4 separate regions of the Homo sapiens genome follow, and regions 1, 2 and 4 are each reported to be linked to region 3. The links are microRNA targets in miRTarBase. Many come from high-throughput screens and were not tested one by one. Region 3 holds a microRNA gene; each other region holds the end of a gene's coding sequence.
What was found. The annotated mature microRNA hsa-miR-8063 reads UCAAAAUCAGGAGUCGGGGCUU and lies in region 3 at 2,140-2,161, opposite strand. An mRNA with a match to its seed (bases 2 to 7 or 8) in the 3' UTR can be bound and repressed. Matches are read on the target gene's strand: a 7mer-m8 pairs with bases 2 to 8, a 7mer-A1 pairs with bases 2 to 7 and ends in A, and an 8mer does both.

Region 1 (4,067 bases), not on the chromosome of region 3:
GGCAAAACTAGAGTGATAGAGAGCAGCTCAGTGATTTCCATGGGCCAGACTTTAGGGGAGGAGATTGACTGCAAAAGGATAGGGGGACATCTGGGCTAGTGAAAACGGTCTATGTCGATTGTGGTGGTGGTTATGTGACTGTATGCATTTGTCAAAATTCATTGAACTTTTAACCTCTATGGAAAACAGTATGGAGATTTCTCAAAGAAATAAAAATAGAACTACTAGTTCATCTAGCAATGCTACTGCTGGGCATCTACCCAAAGAAAAAGAAATTATTTTCTCAAAAAGACATCTGCATTCATATGTTTATGATAGCACTATTCATCATAGCAAAGTCACAGTATCAACCTAAGTGTCCATCAACAGTGGACTGGATTTTAAAAATGTAATACTTACACACACACACACACACACACACACACACACACACGCACACCATGGAATGCTACGCAGCCATAAAAAGGAATAAAACATGTACTTTGCAGCAACATGAATGCAGCCGGAGGCCATTATCCAAAATCAATTAATGCAGAAACAGACAACCACATATTCTCACTTATAAGTGAAAAGTAAACAAAGGGTACATTTGGACATAAAAATGGAAATAATAGACACTGATGACTCCAACAGAGAGGAGAGAGGGATGGGGGCAAGGGTCAAAAAATGACCTATTGGGTACTATGTTTACTATTTGGGTGATGGGTTCTATAGAAGCCCAAACCCCAGCATTATGAAATATACCCATGTAACACACCTGCATTTGTACCCCCTGATTCTATATTATTTTTAAAAAAGAGGGAATACATATACAAGCAAAAATAGACTATAAAGCTGATTACAAAAAAGATTTATAATAAAATTACATAGATCTTCTTGAAATTAAAATATAGTAATTGAAATGAAGAAAAATTCATTGAACTTTGAGGGCATTTATTGCATATAAATTATACATAAAAATTGTTTTAAAAAACTCTAAACTGCCACATAGAATCAAAAATTGAAGTATTTCAGGTTCTGTTTCTTGTCTTTACAATCATGGTATAATCATTGTTTATTTCAAATCCATCATTTAAATGCAATAATATATAGTACTACAGGGGCTGGAGACACATGAGCTGACACCATATGTACTGAGAGCCAACTATATAGCAGGATATTCCCTGAATTAGTTTCCATGTGGAGTAAAATGATTATTGAAGAAAAACAGTACAAATGTGCTACTTTGAAGCTTACATATATGTATTATTTAAAACTCAACAGTAACCTCAGAAATTGTTTAGAACCTAGTTCAATAAAATATTTTGGGGGATGAATACTTTATCACTGATATTATTTAGAATTGCTGGCTCATGGTGGTAATAAAAAATAGACCAACTTGTAGTCAGCTTTATTATTGTTTTCAAATTCTTTCCAGTGTACCCTCTATTCCCTGCCCTTTGCGGGATAGACTTGTTGTCTCATCACCTGTCCTTGATATTCTACTGCTACTCCTCATCAACAATTGTGGGTTACTGGGACTCTAGAATAATATCACAAAGCCAGAGGCCAGTCTGACTTGCAGAATCTTTGAAAACCTCATTATTATTCAAAGAGTATTATTGATTGCCTACCGCAACCGGGGGCCATTCTAGGTGCTAGCAATTTCAGGTGAAACAGTCTCTGATCTCCAGGACTTAAGTTCTGATAATGTATATTGACATTGTGAGTGCAAGCAATAGCATTTTCTCCAACAGTTAAAAGTAGTAGCCTTTTCTAAAAGTTACAGGTTGTCCTCTCTTCCTTCCCCTTTGTTTATCTTTCTCAGTGTCCTCCCAGGTGCACCCCTTTCTCCCAGCACCATAACCAATCACATTTCTTTAAGTTTCAAGTAAGGTCTCAAGTGCAGGGGCATATTATCATCTTAGAAGGGAGAACCAACAAATAGAATCTTTTGCCCAACTTAGATCTATTTGTCCTTCTTATGGACCTGTGACATTCACCTGTCAATCTGCTCTTACAAGCCTCTATCAGATGCAAGGTGCTTCTGAGATTTTTGATACAGGGATGCAGCTTAGAATTGTAAGTGGCCTCCTTGATATTCTGCATCACTAGATAAGGCTTACACAGCAAATACCTATGCTCATCAAAAAAAAAAGTCTAAGATAAAAGTGCAGGCAAGCAGTTCAGAGGGGATAAAAGGCCCATTGTGAAAACAATGGGAAGGCTAGTATAGGCCAAGTTAGGTCTCCCACCAACCTCTCTGCTTTATGAGGGCTACCACGCAGCTCATCCCAGTCCCACTGGAGTCTTTTCTTCTTCTAAGCCTATGTAACAATTTCTCACTTAGAACTGTAAAGGTATTTAGAATACATGTCAGGGCCAGAATTTGCAGAGGTCAAGAAGCTTCTTTATGATTAAGTGAATGACCCCAGCAAGGTCAGTATTAGCTTCACCAAGACTTCTTATCAGACTAGTGGGCCAACCACACTTCCCATTCCTCCCAAAGAAAAGTCAGATAGGAGCTTGGAAGTAGTGCTGGACCTCAATACTAGTGTTCAGAATCTCATGACAATTTTTATATCTTATATGTTCATGATTGCAAAGAGAAGATAATGATTTTTTTTCTGATAATAATGCAGCATATTCCTTTCAGATCAATGTTAGCACATCCCTTGTCAATAAAATTTATATTCCACCTCAACCAATTCCTTTCATAGGCATCAGCTGATTTGAATGGGGTGACGTATTTTACAATGATGAGGAAGAAGCATTTTTTTGTTTTGACTTTACATGAGCACTGGTGACTGATTTTTAACACACACACACACACACACACACACACACACAAAATCTCTGGTGATGAAAATAACCATTAAATATAACTAATGCAATACTATGCCTTTGTATGATGAACTGACTCACTGCTTAGTATAGTTTTATGTGCTTTGCTTAAAACATTTGAGGCCACAGAAAGGTTGGACATGAAATAAAGTCTTCGGGGTTATTTCATATTCTTTTAAGAGTGTTTCTTCAGCTGCCAGGGAAAGATGTGTGCATGAATTCTCTTACCCATGTCAAGGCCAGTTACAGCTCCATAAAATCAATTCAGCTGTGGTAGACTGATAAGTGCATGTTTCAAGATGACACAAAGTGATCAAGCCAGGTGAGAACTAGAAGAGCTTTGGGGCTAAATTAAATGCCATTGCCTGATGGGGAAGAGGAGAGGAAGGAAATGCACAGGCCAATTGTTGCTGGGATGATATGATTTTGTAAGCCCTCTATGATCAGTGTTAATCCTGTGTTGTTTTGTATATTTTCAAAATGTATACATGATAGTTTGCTAGAAATGGTCACCCAGTGACAGAGGACCTGGCCCTTTCTGGTCACTTGTCCCCTTTCACTGTTTTGGGGACTTCTCTAGGAGGTTCTAATCCAAAGTAAACTTTTACTTTGAAAGCTTTAAAAGTCCTTTTACTCTACGGATGTTATGTGGAAAGGCTTGCTTACTCTCGGCTCCATTGCTCTTAAACCTCTTGGTCTTGCTGGCAAAATTTATATGAATCAGAGATTATTTTTAGGTCTGGGGTTTATATTAGAAATTATTCACTGTCATTCAACAAATATGCACAAAGCACCCACTAGATACCAGGGATACATGGGCAAACTTCCTGTTTCTGAAAATGCTGCCAAGTCTCAGTTCCTGAGCACTTGGCGCCTTTTACTTTGGGCCCTAGGTAGAACCACAGATACAGGTAGTACTGATGGACATCTTCTTGTCATGGCTGAAGTTTTCCGGGGAATGGTTCTTTGAGGAGCTACCTTGGCTGAGGCTCTCTTGGTTGAATCTCTAAGTACAAGAGCATAAGACAAGGCTTCCCGTTGAGTAATATAGCCTAGGGGAAAGAAATGAGAGAAACTTCAAAATCAACAATTTTACAAGGCAAATAAGAAAACAAAACTGCAAATATTTACTTATGTGTACAAAATTTATTCTACTCTTGTGGTAAGCATGCCCAGATTATATGATCTTTGAAGATTGGAAATATATTTTTCTTCTTTTGTATTTCTCATTCAATAAGTTAATA
Region 2 (4,067 bases), not on the chromosome of region 3:
TGTGTAGCTATAATCTAAATCAGTTCACACTTCCTGGTTTGAAGTGTTGTCCTAACTTAAGTCTTCATGATTAGCATTCAGAATTAATACACCCTTTGGAGTGAAACATATCACCCACTAGTTACTTGTATGGGAGTGACTTGAATGTGTAACAAAGAATAGTTATCATTAGCCATCATACTTAGAGAAAAATGCCTCTATGCATTGGCAAAAACGCACTGATGTTAATCCTGGCAGATGTTTTAACTCAGCTGTTATACTGAACATTACGTATTATGTTCTCTATTTCATTATTAAAAATAAACCATGCTTTTTTTCTGAAAAAGTTAATATGTTAACTACAATTTAAAACAGCTATTTCTAATGTTAAGCACAAATATTTGTAATACAACTCTTAAGCAAAATAGTATTTTTATTATAATGAAACATCAGCTAACTTGATATTTTTAAACTGTAAGTCTGGGTTACAAAGTACCAACTGCTCTGTAACTGAATGCCTACTGCTTGAAGGGTCCTGAACTCAGTCCATTTTTGCCTACAATCTTAAGCCTACATGAAGCCCATAAACATTTTTGTTTGCAGAAAACAACAATGACAAATATGATTGTTAAGGAGGTGTAACTTACAGTATCTAGGTAAAAACCTTTCATTTCCAGAAGGTCGACAAATGACTTTACTGATGTAAAAACATGCTTTAACATACATTTTGCTTAAAATCAAATAGAATGTTTATAAAGAAATACTTCAGTCCAACATACATATTACATCAGTAATCTTACTGCTCACAATTATTTTCTAATGCCCAACACCTTTAGTTGTTTTCAGTTATCCAGAATACATAAGAAATTGTTACTAAAACTATAGATATAACTCTGCGAAATGTAAAAAAAAGAACAAAGAAAAGGAAAATTATACAAAGAATCATTAATCTCTTAGTTATTTTAAGGCAATAGAGCCAGTAAAAAAATCATTTCAAAACTGAGTAAAATAAACTAAATGTAGTTTTTTAGATATTCATTAAAACACAGAAAATGCTTGGTTGTCTTTGTAGCTACAATACATTTCTATGTTTTGTAATAAATTGGTAATTTCAAAGTAACAGCTTTTCCAATTCTAAGGAATTACTCTGCCAAAATAAGGTTTAAAATAAAATACATAAAATGGCTTAGTTTATCCTAATCTGATATAAATTTGTGATTGATTGACAGCAAGAATATAATGGGAACGTACATAAATGAAGCAAAGCAGTCATCACATTCTTATGAACTAGAAATAACATCATAAAAACATGTTCATTTTCATAAAATTTTACATTTTTGTACATACACTCCTCCTAAGTTTGTACTTTTGATATGTTCAGAATGTGGCTATACTATTTACTTATGGGGCAGTAAATCTTTAGAGCCAGTATAATTACATCAATTAGCCAAAAGAGGGCGCAGAAACAACACCAGTAGATATGCTTAGCAAACTGCCAGTTGGTTTTTCTCTAGTAGTCTAATAAGAATTAACAAAACCCACAGGAGAGTTAGGTACGCTAACTGGGGAATACTGAAAGTTACAGTGTTAAGTATATATAGATATACTGTAATATACATTCTTATGTATATATACTGATAGATAGCATTTCTGCATTCAAATAAAATAAGTGTATGCTTTTCTAGTATATTAGTTTGTAGTCCAATAATTTAGGGGAACTGAGTACAGAGGGATCAGGACCAGGAAAGGTAAAGAGGAAGAGGGAAAAGAATATGCCCTAGATGAGGTAAATCTAGGAAAAATAAGAGCACAAATCATCAGAGTGGGAAAGAGACCCTGCCCAGTACCCACTGCTACTACATGAAGTATAAATTAGCCACAAAGTTCTTTAGGTGATCTTCACTTGGCTCTGCTGTTTTCTCAAGGTCTTTATTTGAAAGGAATGTATACAATATAAGGCATTCAACTGATATCTACCTACCTTATCTATATATTACTTCCTTATGAACAGTTCTGTCACCAGGCCAAATGTGGCCAAATTAGCTTGCACAAAATCCAAACCCTTGTGCCTGACATGAACATTCTAATTTTGTGTTTCACTAAGCTTTATAAATATATTTCTTCTATTTAATTTACTACGTCTCTTTTCAGTACCAATAAATATGTTCGTCTGCTGTATTTCTGTTCGTATTTCTGAGTTTGTAAGTAATAAAGTATTCTAATTAGAACATGAAAAACATGATATTAACATCTCTGAGAAGAACTTACTCTATTATTTCAGAATATGCTACAAGATATTTACAATTTCTGAAAGAACTAACCACAGTATAGCCAACTGGCTGACAATGGTAACCTTCTGTTTAATTATTTCCCAGGTATTGTTCCTTACTTTCAAAACTAGCTAAAAGGAAAATGTTAGCATGGTTTATGAACAGTAGACTTTTTCAATCTTCTCTTCAAGGGAAAGACTGTGAGTACATAAATTTTTTAAAAAGATATATGGGTTTTGCAGTATTCTAATGGAAAAAAACTAAAAGCTGAGTTTTTTTCAAAGCATACTAAATGTCTTTTCATACAAATGTTCTATGCCTTGCAAAAGAACATCACTATTAGTAATTTACATTTGTACAAGGCTAATGATAAACACAGATCATTATATTTTCTTATTTTAGGTTCACTTCCTAACACTAGCTACTAGTAAAAGGTCTCTCAATGCAAATTACAGCCAGCCAATTAAAATTTAATTTTAATTTAGGGATTATAGGTACACAAAGTTAGTGACTTTTTTTAGTAGTAGCTTCCTATAAATAAAATTTCTATATGAGTTGGCCAATATATATAAACCTTCAATGTGAAATTTTACATCTACTAGTACATAAATAAAAGTAAAAAGTATACTCTTTTCAAAAGCACAATATTCCTCTTTATACTGTACATTATATACTATCTAGTTATACTAGCATTTTAAAAACATATGCATTCTAATATAACTGCACTAGAAAAGGTAATTGTGAAGTTATTGCAAATTCTCTCCCCTTTTTGCTCATTAAAATCTTAGGATAAAATAGGAATACATGCCCACTGGTCAGGAGTTCTCCTGGGAGCAAATATTTTAATCACAATCAATAATTACAACAGTAATAGTGAAAATTGAAAAAATTATTGTGAAAAAAATTTTAACATTTCCTTTATAGTAAGGTAGGTAGTTGGTGTTTTACTTCAGTGGTACTTTCATGTTGGTTTTGGTGAAGAAAAAAGAAGAAAACGTAAGCAAGCCACTCCTAAGAAACCAATGCCCGTTTTGTGTTGCTGTTGTTCACTCCTATGCTGCTGCATTTTTAAAAACGTTGCAGCACATTTAAAAGGAAAGGTTATTTTAAATTGGATTTGAAAAAGAAAATTTACCTATACTATAAGAAGGTGTATCAACTTTTGTAAAACCTGAATAATTAAATTTAGATTTGGTTACTGTTTAAAAGTGAAAATTTTAAATAAACATCTGAAATTTACCATAAATTAGAATCTGTAACACTGTCAGTACTAAAATAAATTATGTACAATTATTTCATCCTAATCACTGCCTTTTGAGTTTAATAACAAAAGCATTTCAAGAAATCCCTGTGGAAAGCTAATTTGAAAGTAAACATGCTTTAAAACTTAAATATAGATCTTGTATTAGTCCCACAACAGGATCAAGATCACTATTAAAATAAAGCCTGGGGCACATTATGATGCCTAAGACTGGTGGGTGGATTTTAATTGACTTGAAGACTGTCATAGTTCTATTATCATAAAACCTGTAACGCATTGCCAGCATGGAGGACCCATCTGTGCCCACCATCCATCTGTTTAGACATGATTGGCAAAGTGGTAGGGAACTCGCAGTGGTTGCCTCTGCCTGAAAGGAATGAACCACAGGATCTTCCAACGAGTGCCAAAAACTTCTGAGAAGGTCTGCTGCCATGGCTTTCGGGGCCTCGATCTACAGAAGACAGCATTATTAGTGAAAGACAGCACTCCCATGGTGCACTTCAGTCAGCTAAAACAATACAGATTGGCTGGGGATCCATTACTGGACTCTGATGAAT
Region 3 (4,067 bases):
TGTCCGCTGTAACCAGTTGGCAAGTTCACTGCATAAACATCAACACCAATTTAATGACTGTGTACACATCGTAAACTAGAGAATCTTTATACAAAGAAATCAGATAAATCAAACATGAGCTGAGGCTAAGGAGAAAGCAATTAAAGCTTTAGGTTAAGGTGGCTGCGGGAGGGCACTGTGTCACGTTAGAGCAGAGAACAGAAAATGTGTTAATACAACTGCAGTATGTATAATTAAATTAATTAGTAATATAAAATGTGTTTAAAGCAACATCTCATCAACAGATTAATAGATAAGAAACTTTTAGAAGTTTTAATTTTCCCATTGTATGTGTTCAAAGAATAGGAAAAAAAAAACCCTCTGAAATTTCCTAAGGGGTTGATAAAAATAAAATTGCTGTGGTGGTGGGCTTGGGGGGGTGGGGGATGTAAAGTCGATTTACCTGCCTCTGGCTAGTAACAGGAAAAAGGAATAATCAGAACATAAAAACCTGTTTGGCCATATTTCATCTCCTTATAGCATATTGAAATGTTTTGGCGCCAACTCATCTCATTCTAATACCTCGAAGGCTGGTATAAAACACCTTTAAGGCACATTGTTTTCTGAGCAATTATTTAGAGTCAATGTCTAAGAAATGCTTAAGCATCACCTGGTAATACAAATTTTAAAGTTATATTTAAAACACCCAAGGAGGTTTTTACTGAACAAAAATTAGATTGCCTATATGCCAAAGCTCCTCATCAACTGAAAGCTGGAAGCTAAATTTGGCCGTAAGAAACTGGCTTGGAACTTCAGAAGTTCTGGGGCCAAATTCAGCCCTGTATTACTTGTATGCCTTGTTACATTAAAAAAAAAAAAAAAAAAAAAAAAAAAGGGCTGTTCCAGTGATAGCAAGCATTCCATTTATTCATCTCAAAAGCAATAAGATCCTAGAATGGAGCCTTCATAACACAAAATGCTTTTAAGTTTTCCCTGAGGGGAACACAATATACACAATTCATGTAAAAAGAAGAAAAATGAAAGCTAAGTATTTCAGTTAAGGGTCAGAAATCAATATTTCCTTAACAGCCTAAGCAACATGCATTACTCTTAATACAAATACTCAGAGACTTTACATTCTTCATAAAGGGAGATTTTCACATAATTGGGGTTGAAAGTGGCAGAATATGCTCTCCCAACTTAGTTTCTATTGCTGCAAAATGGAAAAGAATATATTTGGACAGCATTTCACTGATCCCTGTCATCCTCGGTTAAAACTTCTTACCTAAATGTCCAAGTGTGGAGCAACACGTAACTAAATTTTAATACATCTCAATGGAATATGATAAAGACATTGCAATATCAATAGGAGAACAATATAGTAACAGAAACTATAAATGTAAAACTAACTTTATTGAAGAAATGAGAATATGGTATTTTTCAGGTGGCAAAATTTTTTCATGATGTTCCGTTATGCTGTCAATAAAAAGTTTTAAAAAAGAAAAACTTCTGCCTGAGTAGCACAAAAGTAAGTTATGATAAGATGTAGTAGGAAGAGAATGAACCTTAAGAGATAAAGTGTAACTAAAAGGACTGAGTTTAAAAAAACAAACATCCTGACTAGCTGGTGAGCATTAACATTAGTCCTCCTTCTGTTCTCCAGAATGGAGCCAGAGTGATCCCTGCAAAGGACCCGTGTGATTTTGTCACTCTACTGCTTGGCATGCTTCAGTGGCTTTCCATTATTTTCAGGCTGAAGACGAAAATGTTTATCATGGCCTTCAAGGTACCCAATGATCTGGTCTCGAACTCCTGACCTCAAGTGATCCGCCCACCTTGGCCTCCCAAAGTGCTGGGATTACAGGTGTGAGCCACCGCACCTGGCCAATAGAAACTATTTTTAAAAATTCATTTATGTGTCTTATGCCTTTTAAAATATTTTTTGTCCTGTTTTCTCCTTCTTTCAATAGTGTACTCTGATATGATTCAAAGGAACCCCAGGGACCAACACCTCTCCTGGTTTCCAAAAGACCTTAATTTTACTACAGTTTAAGATTCAAGTGTATAACAAATTCTTTTTTTCTAAAGCAGAATTTAGAGGAATCAGTTGTGACAATTCATAGAGATACACTTTTTTTTTTCTGTGCATGAAAAGCAGTAAAGCCCCGACTCCTGATTTTGAAACCAATTTCTCATATCAAAAGTCTACACATCTGTTGAAACTGCCTCTATTGCTTAGGACTAAGAAACAATTTCTTTGTATGGGCTGACTGAACAACTATCTTTTAAATCTCTTAAGTATGTACTAGAATTAGTCTGTGTTTGCATAGACATCTTTTACTTGTCGATATACACCAACACAGCTGTGGAAGAAAGACTAAGCTTTAGTTTCCACTTGGCCATCGGAAACTAAAGTCACTTAATCTCTCTAAGCCTCAGTTTGCTCATCTATAAAATAGGACAATAATACCTGCTTTACAGGTATTTGGGAGGATTAAGTAAGAAAATGATAGAATCATGCTGGATAAGCTGTAGAGCATTTACAAATAGAAAACATAATCAAGATTCCACTTAGCTTGAGGATTCAGACACAGAGTTTTGCAGAGTGGCCAAGTCACAAAAGGGCTCTTCAAAGGCTTCTACTCTCTGGTGTGACACTGGCACAACACCTATTGCCCCGGTAGAAAGACCTTTATTTCAAAATGTTTCACTAGGAAACAGTTAAAAGCTGTTCTTTGGTTAAGCGCACTGACTCTTATTTGGATGCTGCTGCCTCTTTAAAGCTTAGATCTGCATTCTTCTAATGGAGAAAAGGAGAGTAGGCATAAAACTATAGAATAAAGAGCCTGGAACTTAGTAGGTGTTATAAAACATTGGTTTAAAAAAGAAAACATGAGTGAATAAACCCAAAGCGTTCATCTATTTTAAATTATCCGAATTGCCATGGTAAAATACAAGTTGTAATTAGAAGAATCAGGTTTGGTGCTTTGCACATAATAAGAGTTGAAAAAATAAAGAGGATGACTGGAGTAATGACGTTCAAATAAGAAGTTAAAATATTAACACTAAAAAACTGTAACTGAACTTTTAATTAAAAAAACCCTAAAAACTAATGACATTGTTTTCTTCTTATTTAAAAAAAAAAGCCAGTATTCCACTTGAAATGTTCGTGAGATATACAAATCCACTGATTTCCAAAATTAACCTTATGATATTTAAAGATGATATATGCCTTGTTGTCTATGGATACCTGCCAGAACTTGTACTTACGTATTTCTAAACACTTAATTCAGCAATATTTCACATCAATTTCCCCCTCGATTTTTCTAGCTATCATGCCTTGAGAGCAGTTCCTATCTTTGACCTTGAAAACTCTCAATAAAAATCAGTCACATTTCCATTTCCTAGAAATTCGAAGAGTGTCACCAAACTTTCAGGTACAGATAAATTCTTGTCTGGTTATCCTGTATTGTGAAATGCCAGCTCTTCATTATTTCAGAACATTCTATATCAGGGCTGATATTGAATCTATAATTTTGTGTTTTAAAACACCAAACATCATAGTGAAATTCAAAAAATGAATTTCAGAATTCTGAGTGTTCATATTTCAAGCTCCTACATAGTTCGTTTATTTTTTCTTTCCATCGAGCCACAGAAGTTGACCCCAGTAAGACCATTAAGTCCACTGATTTCATTAGTAATATTTTTGTTCACACTCCAAAAATCAAATTGTTCATATTCCAAAAATTAAATAATTTGGTTTATCAACATTTCAATGATTTTCCATATTCTCCCAAATTATTTGAGAGCTATGACATACCACGTTAACATTTACATATGAAAAACAGAAGCAAAAAAGCAATTTTCCTAATAGAAGGCATTTAATCACGTTGAAATAAGATCTTACCTTACAGGGCTGCCCCTCAGCCCACCTTATACTTTCTGGATGTTTAAGTCTGTGGCTTTGACTTACATGGGTTAACGTCCTCTGTAAGCTAAATCCAGTATCAGATGGATATGGCATGAGGAACCAGCCAGCATGAGGAACCAGGTCCTACTGTTAAATCTGCGTGCCATGTTCAGTTGAG
Region 4 (4,067 bases), not on the chromosome of region 3:
TCAAAAAAAAAAAAAAAAAGCCTACACCTTACACCAGATTATAGATCAACACACTGCTTCCCTTCATCAGGAAAGCCTTCCTTTAACAAAGTGTGCTTTTTTCACTCTGATTAAAGTTCTTTATCTCACTATGAACCAATCATAAACAGTTCCCGCACTGGCAGCCATCCACAGAGCACTGGTCTAGAAGCCCGTCCAGAAGCACACCCAAATGGTTAATGTTGCAGCCTGCGGTGTCAAGCATCACCTGTGTTGTTTCCCCTTCACAGCCCCGCTTCCCTCCTGTGCTGCTGAGGCCTGGTGAGGAGTATGACCACACCACCTGGTTCAAGTTTTCTGTGGCTTAAGGAAGTGTGAAGATATGATCCAGTCCAGGGCTAGGCTCAGCCACCTGTCTCCTGTCCAGAAAAAAGGTGAAGATTAAGAAGCTTTCAGAATGATTCTATGGATTAAAATCATACAAATGGTGGCTGTTCTGAGAATCAGTCTGGGTATTGATTTCCTTTTCCAGTGACTGGCTCCAGGCCATGTCTAATGACCAGCTCGATTCCCTGTGCAGTTCAGAGGGCAAGTGAACCCAACCAACAATGTCGTCATCTAAGCCCTGACCCTAGCCAGGGACTCCCATGCTGCTGTTGGCTCCATCTCTCCACACTGCCTCTTTCTTTTCAACTTTTTGCCCTTCCTTTCTTTAAAGCTATTCTCACATTGCTTTTATTTCCTCCTCCTTCACCTCCAACCACTGTCAGCAGCACTCTGGAGTTTTCAAATGTCACATTAGCCTCACCCTGCATGCTAGGAGATGGACCTGTCTCTATACAGCAGTAGATGATTGATAAGTGAGGAAACTGAGGCTTACAGAGGTTGAAGACCAACAAGCTAATAAATAAAAAGTTGAGGCCGGGCACGGTGGCTCACGCCTGTAATCCCAGCACTTTGGAAGGCCGAGGCAGGCGGATCACGAGGTCAGGAGATCGAGACCATCCTGGCTAACACGGTGAAACCCCGTCTCTACATAAAAAATTAGCTGGGTGTGGTAGCACGCACCTGTAGTCCCAGCTACTTGGGAGGCTGAAGCAGGAGAATCGCTTGAACCTGGGAGGTGGAGGTTGCAGTGAGCCGAGATCATGCCACTGCACTGGGCAACAGAGCAAAACTCGATCTCAAAAAAAAAAAAAAAAAAAAGGAAAAAAAAGCAGCTCTCTCTCTCGGGAGAGGGAGGGGACTTCCGAGAGGAAAAGGCCTGCAAGAGCCTTTGGGTTAACTGAGAAAGCACAGCCCGGCCAACGCTTGGGAAGAAAGACAGGCAAGCACTGGAAACAGGAGCTATTAGGGTGAGGAGAGAGCCTTGCCTTTCACAGCACAGTGAGGATGACATTGCACCAGGGACAGAGATTGTATGTGACAAGGCTGGGGCTCCTTCTTTCCTAGACAATCAAAGTATCAGTGATGGGTTTTGGTTGGTGATTTTGAAAAAAAAAAAAAAAAGTATGTTATACTAGTGTATGCTGTACTGAATTGAAATAAAACCAAAATCTGCATCTTCAGAAGACTTGTTCCTTTACTCAGCTTGAAATCTCTCAGGCGTGGACCTTTGGGAAATGGACCAAGAATATGGGTGTGTTCTGGATTCTACTTTGCCCTCCAGTGGGAGCCCTGGCATTTTCCTACCTAACAGTTAGGAAAGCTATCTCAGTGGAAGTAGCTTTCCACACCTCCTCTTTCTTTGTAACCGATAATAAACCAAAGATCTTGTTTATTTTTTAATTCACTTCAGCATGGATTTTTCTGAGCACCTGCTCTGTACACAGCCCTCTGCTGGGTCTGTGAAGGGATTCAGGTCAGGTGTGATGCTGCCCACAGCAGCCAGTCAGGTGAGGTACATGCTCAGTTGTCTTCTCACTGGTGAGGTTAACTTTGGTGACTTGAGCAAGATGCTGCCTGCAGATCTCTCCACTCTTATTAAAGTTACCAATATATACATTAGCCAAGAGGCCTCAGAGGTGAACTATTAAGCTGACTGCAACCTAGCTACCAATTTGATTATTAAATTGTTCGACGCAGGGTTCTCATACTCTAGGTGCCAGCAATCATTTAGGAAATCCCAGAGAAGAAGAGAATGAACATTTTCTTATTCACAAGTGTAGAGTTGCCAGTTGCCCCTGCTTTCTGTATCCTGACCAAAAGTCACAGAGTGCCTTGACCTTTGTCACCTAGCCAGCTGCAGATTTTTCCTAGCAGGCTTGAACCCAAACCGGGCCTTGAACATTCCCAGGCACTGATAAATCTGTCTAGGTTGTTCCCTAAAACACTAAAAGAAACTGGCACTGGGCCGGGCGCAGTGGCTCACGCCTGTAATCCCAACACTTTGGGAGGCCGAGGCGGGTGGATCACCTGAGATCAGGCATTCAAGACCAGCCTGGCCAACATGGTGAAACCCCGTCTCAACTAAAAAAAAAAAAAAAAATACAAAAAAATTAGCTGGGCATGGTGGCGGGTGCCTGTAATCTCAGTTAGTCGGGAAGCTGAAGCAGGAGAATTGCTTAAGCCCAGGAGGCGGAGGTTGCAGTGAGCCAAAATCATGCCATTGCACTCCAGCCTGGGTCACAGCAAGACTCTCATTGCACTCCAGCCTGGGTGACAGCAAGACTCTGTCTCAAAAAAAAAAAAAAAAAAAAAGAAAAAGAAAAAAGAAACTGGCTCTGGCCCTGAGCCAAATTCCTTTAACTGTCATAGAAACTCCCTCACTGCTGATATACCTGGGCAGAACACCCCTTTTCTCTCTCAACCATTGCTGCAGCACTCTGTAAGGAAGTTCCTCTAATAAATGCTTTGGATTGATCACCCTGGCGCTTAGAGCTTCTTTCTTTGAAATCCCAGCCGGCCCTATCTCGAGATAGTTTGGATCACTCCCTGATGGGGTCTCCCCTGCTGCCACTATGGGGGCGATTCCAGCCCTGGATCCACTGAGACAAAACAAAGAAATGTAACAACTACAAACTAGTTCTTAATGTAATGGCCTCTAGGTTTGAGAATGCCAAATTAATTAATTAATTAGCCAAATACTTTGTTTTCTTCTGTCCAAAAAGATTATTGTTTTTATAAGAAGCCAAGTCTACAGTAGTCCAAGTAAGGATATTCATTGCCTGTAGGGCAGCTGAAATAAGTTACTGGCCTTTAAATTAATGGTGTTTATAAAAGCAAGTAAAAAAGGCGGCCAGGCGCTGTGGCTCACATCTGTAATCCCAGCACTTTGGGAGGCCAAGGTGGGTGGATTGCCTGAGGTCAGGAGTTTGAGACCAGTCTGGCCAACCAGGTGAAACCTGGTTTGAGACCAGTCTGGCCAACCGTCTCTACTAATAATACAAAAAAATTAGCTGGGCGTGGTGGCATGCACCTGTAATCCCAGCTACTCAGGAGGCTGAGAGAGGGAAATTGCTTGAACCAGGGAAGTGGAGGTTGGAGTGAGCCGAGATCTCGCCACTGCACTCCAGCCTGGGCGACAGAGCGAGACTCTGTCTTAAAAAAAAAAAAGGCTACATTTGTCACACCATGCATCTGAGGGAAGCAAAAATTTAGAGAAACTCTTTTTGTGGCAGCAACCAATCTGTCCTTTTTCATGAAACACATAACTTTGCTTGAGAAGCCCTTCCATGTGCTTATAAGACATAGATTGTGACATGTGACAGCATGTCAGCATAATTGGGTGATTTTATGATAAAATCGCTGAAGGCCCCAGCAAGAAGTAAAATTTTAGAAGGTGCTGGACGCGGTGGCTCACGCCTGTAATCCCAGCAGTTTGGGAGGCCAAGGCGGGTGGATCACTAGGTCAGGAGTTCAAGACCAGCCTGGCCAAGATGGTGAAATCCCGTCTCTACTAAAAACACAAAAATTAGCCAGGCATGGTGGCAGGTGCCTGTAATCCCAGCTACTCAGGAGGCTGAGGCAGATAACTGCTTGAACCTGCGAAGCGGAGGTTGCAGTGAGCCTAGATTGCACCACTGCACTCCAGCCTGGGTTACAGAGCAAGACTGTCTCAAAAATAAAAAATTGTACAAGGTGAGATG

Region 1: miRTarBase lists FAM216B as a target of hsa-miR-8063. Seed matches in the 3' UTR shown: 7mer-A1 at 3,299-3,305 and 7mer-m8 at 2,828-2,834.
Region 2: miRTarBase lists ZDHHC21 as a target of hsa-miR-8063. Seed matches in the 3' UTR shown: 7mer-m8 at 2,029-2,035.
Region 4: the mRNA of GALM is a reported target of hsa-miR-8063. Seed matches in the 3' UTR shown: 8mer at 1,466-1,473.

What each region holds. Positions count from the first base shown.
Region 1 is chr13:42,788,399-42,792,465 of GRCh38, reverse strand. It overlaps FAM216B (family with sequence similarity 216 member B), which reads right to left. Exons shown (of 4, transcript NM_001318932.2): 4 at 917-3,875. The coding sequence ends at 3,676. Among named protein-coding and RNA genes, the nearest start is that of FAM216B, 8.8 kb to the right of the region's middle.
Region 2 is chr9:14,615,138-14,619,204 of GRCh38, forward strand. It overlaps ZDHHC21 (zDHHC palmitoyltransferase 21), which reads right to left. Exons shown (of 10, transcript NM_178566.6): 10 at 1-3,961. The coding sequence ends at 3,829. Among named protein-coding and RNA genes, the nearest start is that of ZDHHC21, 76 kb to the right of the region's middle.
Region 3 is chr15:36,970,692-36,974,758 of GRCh38, forward strand. MIR8063 (microRNA 8063) reads right to left here and starts at 2,210; the gene lies at 2,130-2,210. The region is part of intron 8 of MEIS2 (Meis homeobox 2); the gene reads right to left.
Region 4 is chr2:38,733,219-38,737,285 of GRCh38, forward strand. It overlaps GALM (galactose mutarotase), which reads left to right. Exons shown (of 7, transcript NM_138801.3): 7 at 270-1,547. The coding sequence ends at 347. It overlaps LOC124905993 (a long non-coding RNA gene), which reads right to left and starts at 332. Exons shown (of 3, transcript XR_007086292.1): 1 at 248-332.